Linked DNA regions of Homo sapiens. The protein of the gene in region 2 purifies or fractionates together with the protein of the main gene of each other region. This does not show direct contact. Each region holds a gene or a part of one and is shown on either strand. Other genes may lie near its edges. The genes, in order: CTH and FOLH1.

Region 1 (3,817 bases), on a different chromosome or scaffold from region 2:
GGTTACTAGAGTCTGGGGAAGGGAGGGTGGAGGTGGGGAGGACAGAGGATGGTCAATGGGTACAAAGTTACAATTAGAAGGAGGAATAGAGGAATAAGTTTTGGTGTTCTACTGCACAAAAGGATGATCATAGTTACAATAAGATACTGTATATATCAAAATAGGAGAGAGGATTTTAAATGTTTCTACTACAAAGAAATGATAAATATTTGAGATGATGGGCATGCTAATTACCCTGCTTTTGATCATTACACAATTACACATGTATTGAGCATCACATTATACTCCATGACTTAAAGGATTAATTTACAGGAAAATTGGGTGAAAGAAAACACTTTTAAAAATTCCTTTTCATTTTTATTTTTCTTAATTCTCCCAGTTTCAGACATATTTATTTATTTATTTATTTATTTATTTGAGACAGAATCTTGCTCTGTCACCCAGGCTGGAGTGCAGTGGTGTCATGAAAAGCTCACTGCAACCTCTGCCTCCTGGGTTCAAGTGATTCTCCTGCCTCAGCCTCCTGAGTAGCTGGGATTACAGGTGCGTGCCACCATGCTCAGCTAATTTTTTTGTATTTTTAGTAGAGATAGGGTTTCACCATGTTGGCCAGGCTGGGCTCAAACTCATGGCCTCAAGTGATCCACCCACCTCAGCCTCCCAAAGTATTGGGATTACAGGTATGAGCCCCCGCACCCAGCAAATTTCTTTCTTTCTTGTTGTTTTTTAAGATAAAGTCTTGCTCTGTCACTCAGGCTGAAGTGCAGCGGCTTGATCATGGTCCACTGCAGCCTGAAACTCCTGATCTCAAGTGATCCTTCTGCCTCAGCCCCCTAAATTGCTGGGATTACAGGAGTGAGCCATTCTCCAACTCCCAGCCGTCTAGATTTCTTGTAATACCTAATACAATGTACATGCTTTATAAATGGTTGTTACACTATATTGTTTAGGAACTAATGACAAGAAAAAAGTCTGTACATGTTCAATACAGACACAACTGTTCATCTATTTTTCCAAGTATTTTTTTACCCATGGTTGGTTGAATCCATGGATGTGAAACCCACACATAGGAAGGGCTGAGTAATTAGGAATCAAGATCATGACAAACCCCAAATGTAAATAATCACAGCATACGTCATGAGGTTTTAATGATTAAAAATCTAAGCAGATGAGTTTATACTTACTCTACATAAAAATTGCTGAATGTTCATTTCAACTATTTTATGTGTTTAATGAGTCATAAAATACTAGAGTCTCTACTGTAGGTAATAAATTTAGAGTCCTGTCAGCAATTGCTATAAAGAAACAGGTTCAAGAGACCAGTTGACCTGGGCTTATCTGCGCTTTCCAAGAAACTTTTGCCTTCAGATTCAATACTGGATTCAATACTTTACATTTTTCTTTGGTGGGAGGGAGGCAAAGGAGAAATAATATCAGAGATCCTGGAAAATTTTAAGATGCACATACTTTTGCAAAGTTAGTATTGATTAGAATAAGAATGGAATTTATAATTGCAAATAGGCAGGTAATGAAGCATATTTTCAAATTGTTTCTCATTTAAAGTAAAAAACTTGTTCTTTCAGCGCCCTTTGGCTCTGGGAGCTGATATTTCTATGTATTCTGCAACAAAATACATGAATGGTAAGATGCATACTTTGAATGTTCTTTTTCATGGATAGGTGAAAATTGCATAGGGCTTGGCTTTTGATCCCTTTTCTTTGATTATTTTGTAGATTATTTCCTGTGACTCATAGAGAGAGTAAAAAAAAAAATCCTTTGATTAAATGTAGGATTTCATTAACAGTACACAAAACTATGCTCATGATTTATGAGAAGAGGATTAAAGTTGGCCATAAAAAGTTATGCTTTTATCTTGCTGACACCTTAAAGAAACATTTTGTTTTTATATAATTTTTATTTTCTTGTTTTAGACATAGCTTTTGCTACTGTCCAGTTGAATAAAGGTTACTTAAACTTATTTTATAGAGCTTTTTCCCTGAGAGTTTTTTCAAGTGAAAATCACATTTTGAAAATTATAAAATAAAGAGTAAACATAAATTGTTTCTAACTGAAATTTTTGTTTGTTTGTTTGTTTTTTGTTTTTAGGCCACAGTGATGTTGTAATGGGCCTGGTGTCTGTTAATTGTGAAAGCCTTCATAATAGACTTCGTTTCTTGCAAAACTGTAAGTATTAAAAAGTGCAGGTTCCCTATGACACTCTCAGTGACTACATTTGATATTTGTATTTCCACTAAGTGATGTGAAGTGATGGCATTCTAATAATTTATGAAGAAATGAAAAATAGAGGAGAAAAATTCTGATTTTTTTTATTTATTAATTTTTTTTTTTGAGATGGAGTTTCACTCTGTTGCCCAGGCGGGAGTGAAGTGGCGTGATCTCAGCTCACTGCAACCTCCACCTCCTGGGTTCAAGCGATTCTCCTGCCTCAGCCTCCTGAGTAGCTGGGATTACAGGTGCCCACCACCATGCCCAGCTAATTTTTTATATTTTTAGTAGAGACGGGGTTTCACCGTGTTGACCAGGCTGGTCTCAAACTCCTGACCTCAGGTGATCCACCTGCCTTGGCCTCCCAAAGTGTTGGGATTACAGGCATGAGCCACCGTGCCTGGCCAAAAAAATTTTTTCTGATTTTAGAGGAAAGTGTTATAAAAATAGTTATTGCAGGCTGGGCACGGTGGCTCATGCCTGTAATCCCAGCACATTGGGAGGCTGAGGCAGGTGGATCACTTGAGCTTAGGAGTTTGAGATCGGCCTGAGCAACATGGCAAAACCCTGTCTTTACCAAAAATACAAACCAATTAGCCAGGTGCAGTGGCATGTGCCTGTGGTCCCAGATACTCAGAGGCTGAGGCAGGAGGATTACCTGAGCCTGGGAGGCGAAGGTTGCAGTGAGCTGACATCGTGCCACTGCAATCCAGCCTGGGCAACAGAGTGAGATCCTGTCTCAAAAAACAAAAAACAAAAACGGTTATAGCATAGCAAGGCTTTATGATATGATATAAGAAATGAGTTTTTTTATTTTCATGTCCATCTTAATTATAATCATAATTTGATAAAGCCCTAGTGAATTTTTAGTTTCAAGACTTAATGGTTTTTTTTTCTTTTTTAAAATTACATTTGAAATGAGGGCTTTCATATACTATACCTTTTATATCACGAATGATGGTTAATTTTAAATAGCACTTACAGTATAAACTTACATTTTTCAATAGATGTCTAAACACCATTTCCTATTTACATTGCTTAGTTTATCTCCAGTATAGTTAAAGATTAAGCCATTGTAACTTGACAGGTAAAATATAAACATGATTAGGAATAAAAATGTCCTCCACAAGGGAAACTGAAACTTATTGCTTGATAAGTGTCCTTTGGTTTATAAAAAGTAGAAATGAAGTATATATCCTGGAGGCATGTGAAATCATTGACCGCTTTGCACAAAGGCTAAATAGAATATTAGTAGAATATTCAGTAATAATAGGACTTGAACTGCTGTTTTTCTCTGTATGTTAAAATAATTTTTCAAAGAAATACAAGGTTAGGCTATGAACAATTTATGATTTTATTAAAATCATAGAAAGGACTACTTATCTTCATATTTGAGAAGTTTATATCATTGTGCTTTTACTTAGTTTTCAGCATATTTGCTTCCCCTCATTTTAAAGTAAATTTCTCTAAGCATATTCTATGCTTTGTTCTTCTGCTTCTGATTTGATATATTATTTTCCTCCTAGAACTCAAACATTGAGCTTTACACCTAGCTTCTGAGAGTCACTGTAATGGAAAAGAGAAGCCAGAT
Region 2 (4,611 bases):
TTTATATTTTAAATTGGTTTTAAAAATAATATTTTTGACACATCAATTATATGAAATCCAAATTTCAGTGCCCATAAGGAAAGTTTTATCAGAACTGACTGTTTATGTATTTTCTATGACTTCTTTTGTGCTGCAATAGCAGAGCTGACTAGATGTGACACAGATCAGCTGGCCTACAAAGGCTGGTCCTTGTACAGAAAAAGTTTGCTGACTCCTGCTCTAAACCTCTGTAATGACAAAATTTAGCTGAAAGTATAGTCCTCCTCAGATGAAATGTGATCCAAGATCTTTAATAAATAAAATTTTAAGAAAAAAGTCCAGTTCCTATATATAAAATATTGGACCAAAACAGAATGATAAATTTTTCTAACAACTTGTCCATATAAACTTTCGAGGATGTACTTACTATAAGAACTTCTTGATGTTCTCAGCTTTCAATTCATCCAAAAATGCTTTCATATTATGCTTTGGAGTAATGTTAGTAGCTTCATTGGAGGATTTTATAAACCACCCTGAAAAATACATCCAAAAATAGGCATGAGATACGAGCCTATAGATAGGACTTATTTTTCATTATTGTTGTATGTATTATTTGTAAAACACAAATTATCAATATTACCTCTGACATTAGGTGAGATATTTCTGAATTTTAATTTCTCTTGCCTACTTTCACTGAAAAAGAGTCATGCAAACAGATTTTTAAGTTGCAAACCAATTGCAAAATATTTCTTATCCAACTTCAATGATAGGTATTGCTGTTATTCTAAGAAATGTTTTATGAGATAATCAGGACGAAAATAAAATGACATTAATGTTTCAACTAATGGGTGTAAACGAGATGTTCTGAAAATGAAGGCAAAAAGGAGATCCACCTTCTACTTTCATAAAGTTTCTATCTTCCTCTGCTGACTCAAATAAGCATTTAATACATTTTTATAACGAATTAATTATGAATATATTTCAAATAAATAAATTATTTCCAAGTGTTGAAGGAAATTCAGACTTCTAATTTGCTCTGATTCTGAAACTAAAACAAAATGCTGTGAGAGTTTGCGTTTCCAGTGAAGTAGGCGTGAGAAATCCAAGTTCAGACAGCTACAATGAAACTACAATTTACCCAGCCTCTCTGCCAGACACCCAGTGCACGCATAGGCGGCCAGAAACAATGGATAGCTAGATCCTGCAGTCATTAGACCTTGCAGTTGGCTTTTAACCTGAAGGAGATAAGGCAAGATTCCAGGGTTTATTTAGAGAAATTACAGGATCTGGGAATAAAGTAGTTACAAAATTAGTCCCCAACCAGCTTTCATGGAGCTTTCCAATTATTAATTATTCTAGTTCTTAATCGCATGCATACAAATGCACATACATATATACATGCATATTAAAATACATGATTGCACGCAAACGGAAATAAGATTCCACCTGTGCATAAAACAGAAAGACTTGGATTAGAGTGAGGGATCAGGAAACACCACACTGAGGACGAGATGCTTGAACTGAGATCTGAAAAATGAACAGGATGAAGAGGATGGAGGCCTGTAGGGGGAGGGGAGAGCAGAGAATCCTAGTGGGTGGGGGGCGGACATCAATAAAGAACTCTTCTGTGTCAGCCACTGAGCACGGAATACAGGGATGAGAGTGAGGGCAATACCAGGAAGAATAAAATCCTTTTAAGAGATGAAGATTGTTATGAGCACAGTGTGTGGTTCAAAAATCTTTTAACAACCCCAAGGTGAAGCTAGTGGAAGATATTGAATTTGTTTAAACCCATCTGGTCCATGCCCTGTTCTTCTAAATCCCGAAAGAGGGTCAAGAATTCCGAGCAGGAGTGGACTACCTGGTGATACCTTAGACTAGTCCTGTGTATTAAAGTCCAATGAGGAGTATCTTGGTAAAAGAAGAAATAAAGTGGCGAAAATCCCAGTACTGTGCTAGGAGATTTACATGCTATATTATTTACTATTACCAATAATTTGCAGATAATATTATCCTCATCATAAAATAGGGTAACTAACGCTGAGAGGGACTCGGTAACTTGTTCAAGGCCACTAAGAAGTGGCAAAGTCAAAACTGGAATTTAATAAAAGAGTCTGAGCTTGCCTGTGTGGTTCTGCTTTTCTTAGAAAGTTGGATCAAGTCTGCAAATCAGTACCCAGGAAAAACAGCAAAAGACCCGCTGGTAAAGACCTGTCCAGATTGCTGACCTGGTTCACACAGTTCCCAAGCTTGCCTCTGTTACTTCCAAGGAAGAAAGAATGCACAGAGAGGTAAAAAAACAAACAAACAAACAAAACAAAACAAAACAAAACAAAAGCAAAAAAAAAACTTCCTCTGTCTTGCAGGGCTCCAGCACTTGGAACCTTCCTACGCCCAGTTTCAGGTTCTCTCAGTTCTACCCTCAACCTGAGTGACTGTCCTACCAGCAGCTTGTCGAGAACTCAGCCCTGCACCGTTCCCAGCTACCCTCCTCCTAACTCGAGGGGTGCTCACCCCACATTACCCCGACCCTAATCGCCGCCCCTGGGGAAGACCAGCAACAGGATCCCACTCGGCAGCTGACCCGCGAGTCCCAGCACCGCGGCACCACGGGGAAGACTCCGAGGTTTGCTCCGCGAGGCGCCCCCCTACCGAAGAGGAAGCCGAGGAGAAAGAAGCCACCCGCCAGCACCAGCGCCCCAGCGCACAGCCAGCGCGGGCGGCGCGCGGTGGCCACAGCCGAGTCGGTTTCGTGAAGGAGATTCCACATCTCGGCGCGAGCAGAGCCGGCCTCCCGGGACCCGCGCCTGTGCTGCTGCTCTACTGCGCGCCCTCCAACCACCACGGCGGGGTAAAGTCTCTCTCAATCTCACTAATGCCTCGCTTATCAGCCCTGCAGGCTGGAATTCGCTCCAGACCTGGGGTCCAGTTTCTCCACCACAGCAGTGTTTCTAGAGTGCACTGAACCAATCCGAGCGAGAGAGAGAGGCAACATCTGCCTCCAGGAGAAGGAAATCCGGCCCCTTTTGAGAGGCGCCTTAAAAAAAAAAACTTTCTTGGAAAATGTCCAGCTCTTGCTTAAATATAAAAATGAAAGGAAGAAAGAGACTCTCCTCTCTCCACTCCTATAATTATGAGGAACTTTTATTCAACTCTGAAATTCTATACAATCTCTACAATACTCTACTGAATAAAAGCAGAGCAGAAAAAGCTGCGCTTTTTTTCCATAGTCGGGAATGCTTGTCATCAGTGTAAATCACCACCGCGCCCTTTTTCCTAAAGAATATTATTGTTATTAATAAACATGTAGGGTATTATCCTCCACTTACATTACAAAACCATTTTTTAAAGCCGGGCGTGGTGGCTCACGCCTGTAATCCCAGCACTTTGGGAGGCCCAGACAGGCGGATCACGAAGTCGAGAAATCGAGACCATCCTGGCCAACATGGTGAAACCCCATCTCTACTAAAAATACAAAAATTAGCTGGGCGTGGTGGCGGGCTCCTGTAGTCCCAGCTACTCAGGAGGCTGAGGCAGGAGAATCGCTTGAACCGGGGAGGCGGAGGTTGCAGTCAGCCAAGATAGCGCCACTGCACTGGAGCCTGGTGACAGAGTGAGACTCCCTCAAGAAAGAAAGGAAGGGAAGGGAAAGGGAAGGAAGGGGAGGGGAAGGGAGGGGAGGGGAGGGGAGGAAAGAAAAGAATACTGGAACTTGTTGAAGGCAGAGACTTTATTTTCATATCCCGGCTATGTCTGGCTACTGTCTTACGTAATAGATATAAAATCAATCTTGGTTGGATTAACCAGAAGAATCATCATACAAAATTATATCCCCGCTATAAATTCTTAATAATAATAATCGTATTTCAAGGGAGAGAATAGCTACATGCTTTATAAAATAAACTGTGTTCTTATAATCCGTGAGAGAGGCCGTGCATTTGCTAGGAGTACTTTATGGAAGCACTGCTTTTAACAGAACCATAAGGTACAGGTAGGATTTGACCCAGTGGAGATGAGAAGAAACATTAGGGGCCATGGGCCAGCTGAGTAGGCAAAGGCAGAAAACTCAGAGTGTATTCAAGGAATAGCAAACAGTTTGCTTTGAGAAAGGGAGAGCACAGTATGAGTTAAGTGGAAAAAGATGGACTAGATTGTACAGTCTTGGGTGCTTCGATGTAGACTTTCTGAGCAAAGTGAAAAATTTGGGAAAATTAATTTGTCAACAATGAACCATGACAACTCCTAGATGACCTAGGGCAGGAAGGAAGGGAATTTCTTCATCTCTTTCTAACAAAATCCTGAATGTACTATATCTTTCCTAATGTTCCTATTGTCAAATCTAATCAGAGATGGCTAATAATAGTGACTAATATTTAAAGAGCACTTATTATGAGTGATGCATGTTATGTACATCACCTCATTTAATCACCATTGGGACCCTTCAAGGTTTGTTCTATTACTCTTCCCGATTTACACATGGTAAAACTGAAATTTAGCTAGATTAGGTAAGTCATTCGAAGTCACAAAGCTAAGACTTAATATAATGTCTGTCTTACTTTGTACCACTCTACAGTCTCTATTCAGCACAGGATACCTTTATGGAGTTTGCTTGTGGCACTGGAGGGAGCACTG

Evidence for each region.
Region 1: the proteins of FOLH1 (region 2) and CTH fractionate together in Homo sapiens (co-fractionation; one large-scale study listed by BioGRID). This does not show direct contact.

Annotation. Positions count from the first base shown.
Region 1 is NC_000001.11:70,428,211-70,432,027, forward strand, and holds part of CTH (cystathionine gamma-lyase), read left to right. Parts: intron 1-1,583; coding exon 1,584-1,641; intron 1,642-2,106; coding exon 2,107-2,184; intron 2,185-3,817. UniProt on the Homo sapiens protein: Catalyzes the last step in the trans-sulfuration pathway from L-methionine to L-cysteine in a pyridoxal-5'-phosphate (PLP)-dependent manner, which consists on cleaving the L,L-cystathionine molecule into L-cysteine, ammonia and 2-oxobutanoate.
Region 2 is NC_000011.10:49,205,661-49,210,271, forward strand, and holds the start of FOLH1 (glutamate carboxypeptidase 2), read right to left. Parts: upstream 2,943-4,611; 5' UTR 2,750-2,942; coding exon 2,632-2,749; coding exon of another isoform or gene 2,564-2,631; intron 2,236-2,563; exon of another isoform or gene 2,104-2,235; intron 1,215-2,103; coding exon of another isoform or gene 1,118-1,214; intron 513-1,117; coding exon 407-512; intron 1-406. UniProt on the Homo sapiens protein: Has both folate hydrolase and N-acetylated-alpha-linked-acidic dipeptidase (NAALADase) activity. Has a preference for tri-alpha-glutamate peptides. In the intestine, required for the uptake of folate.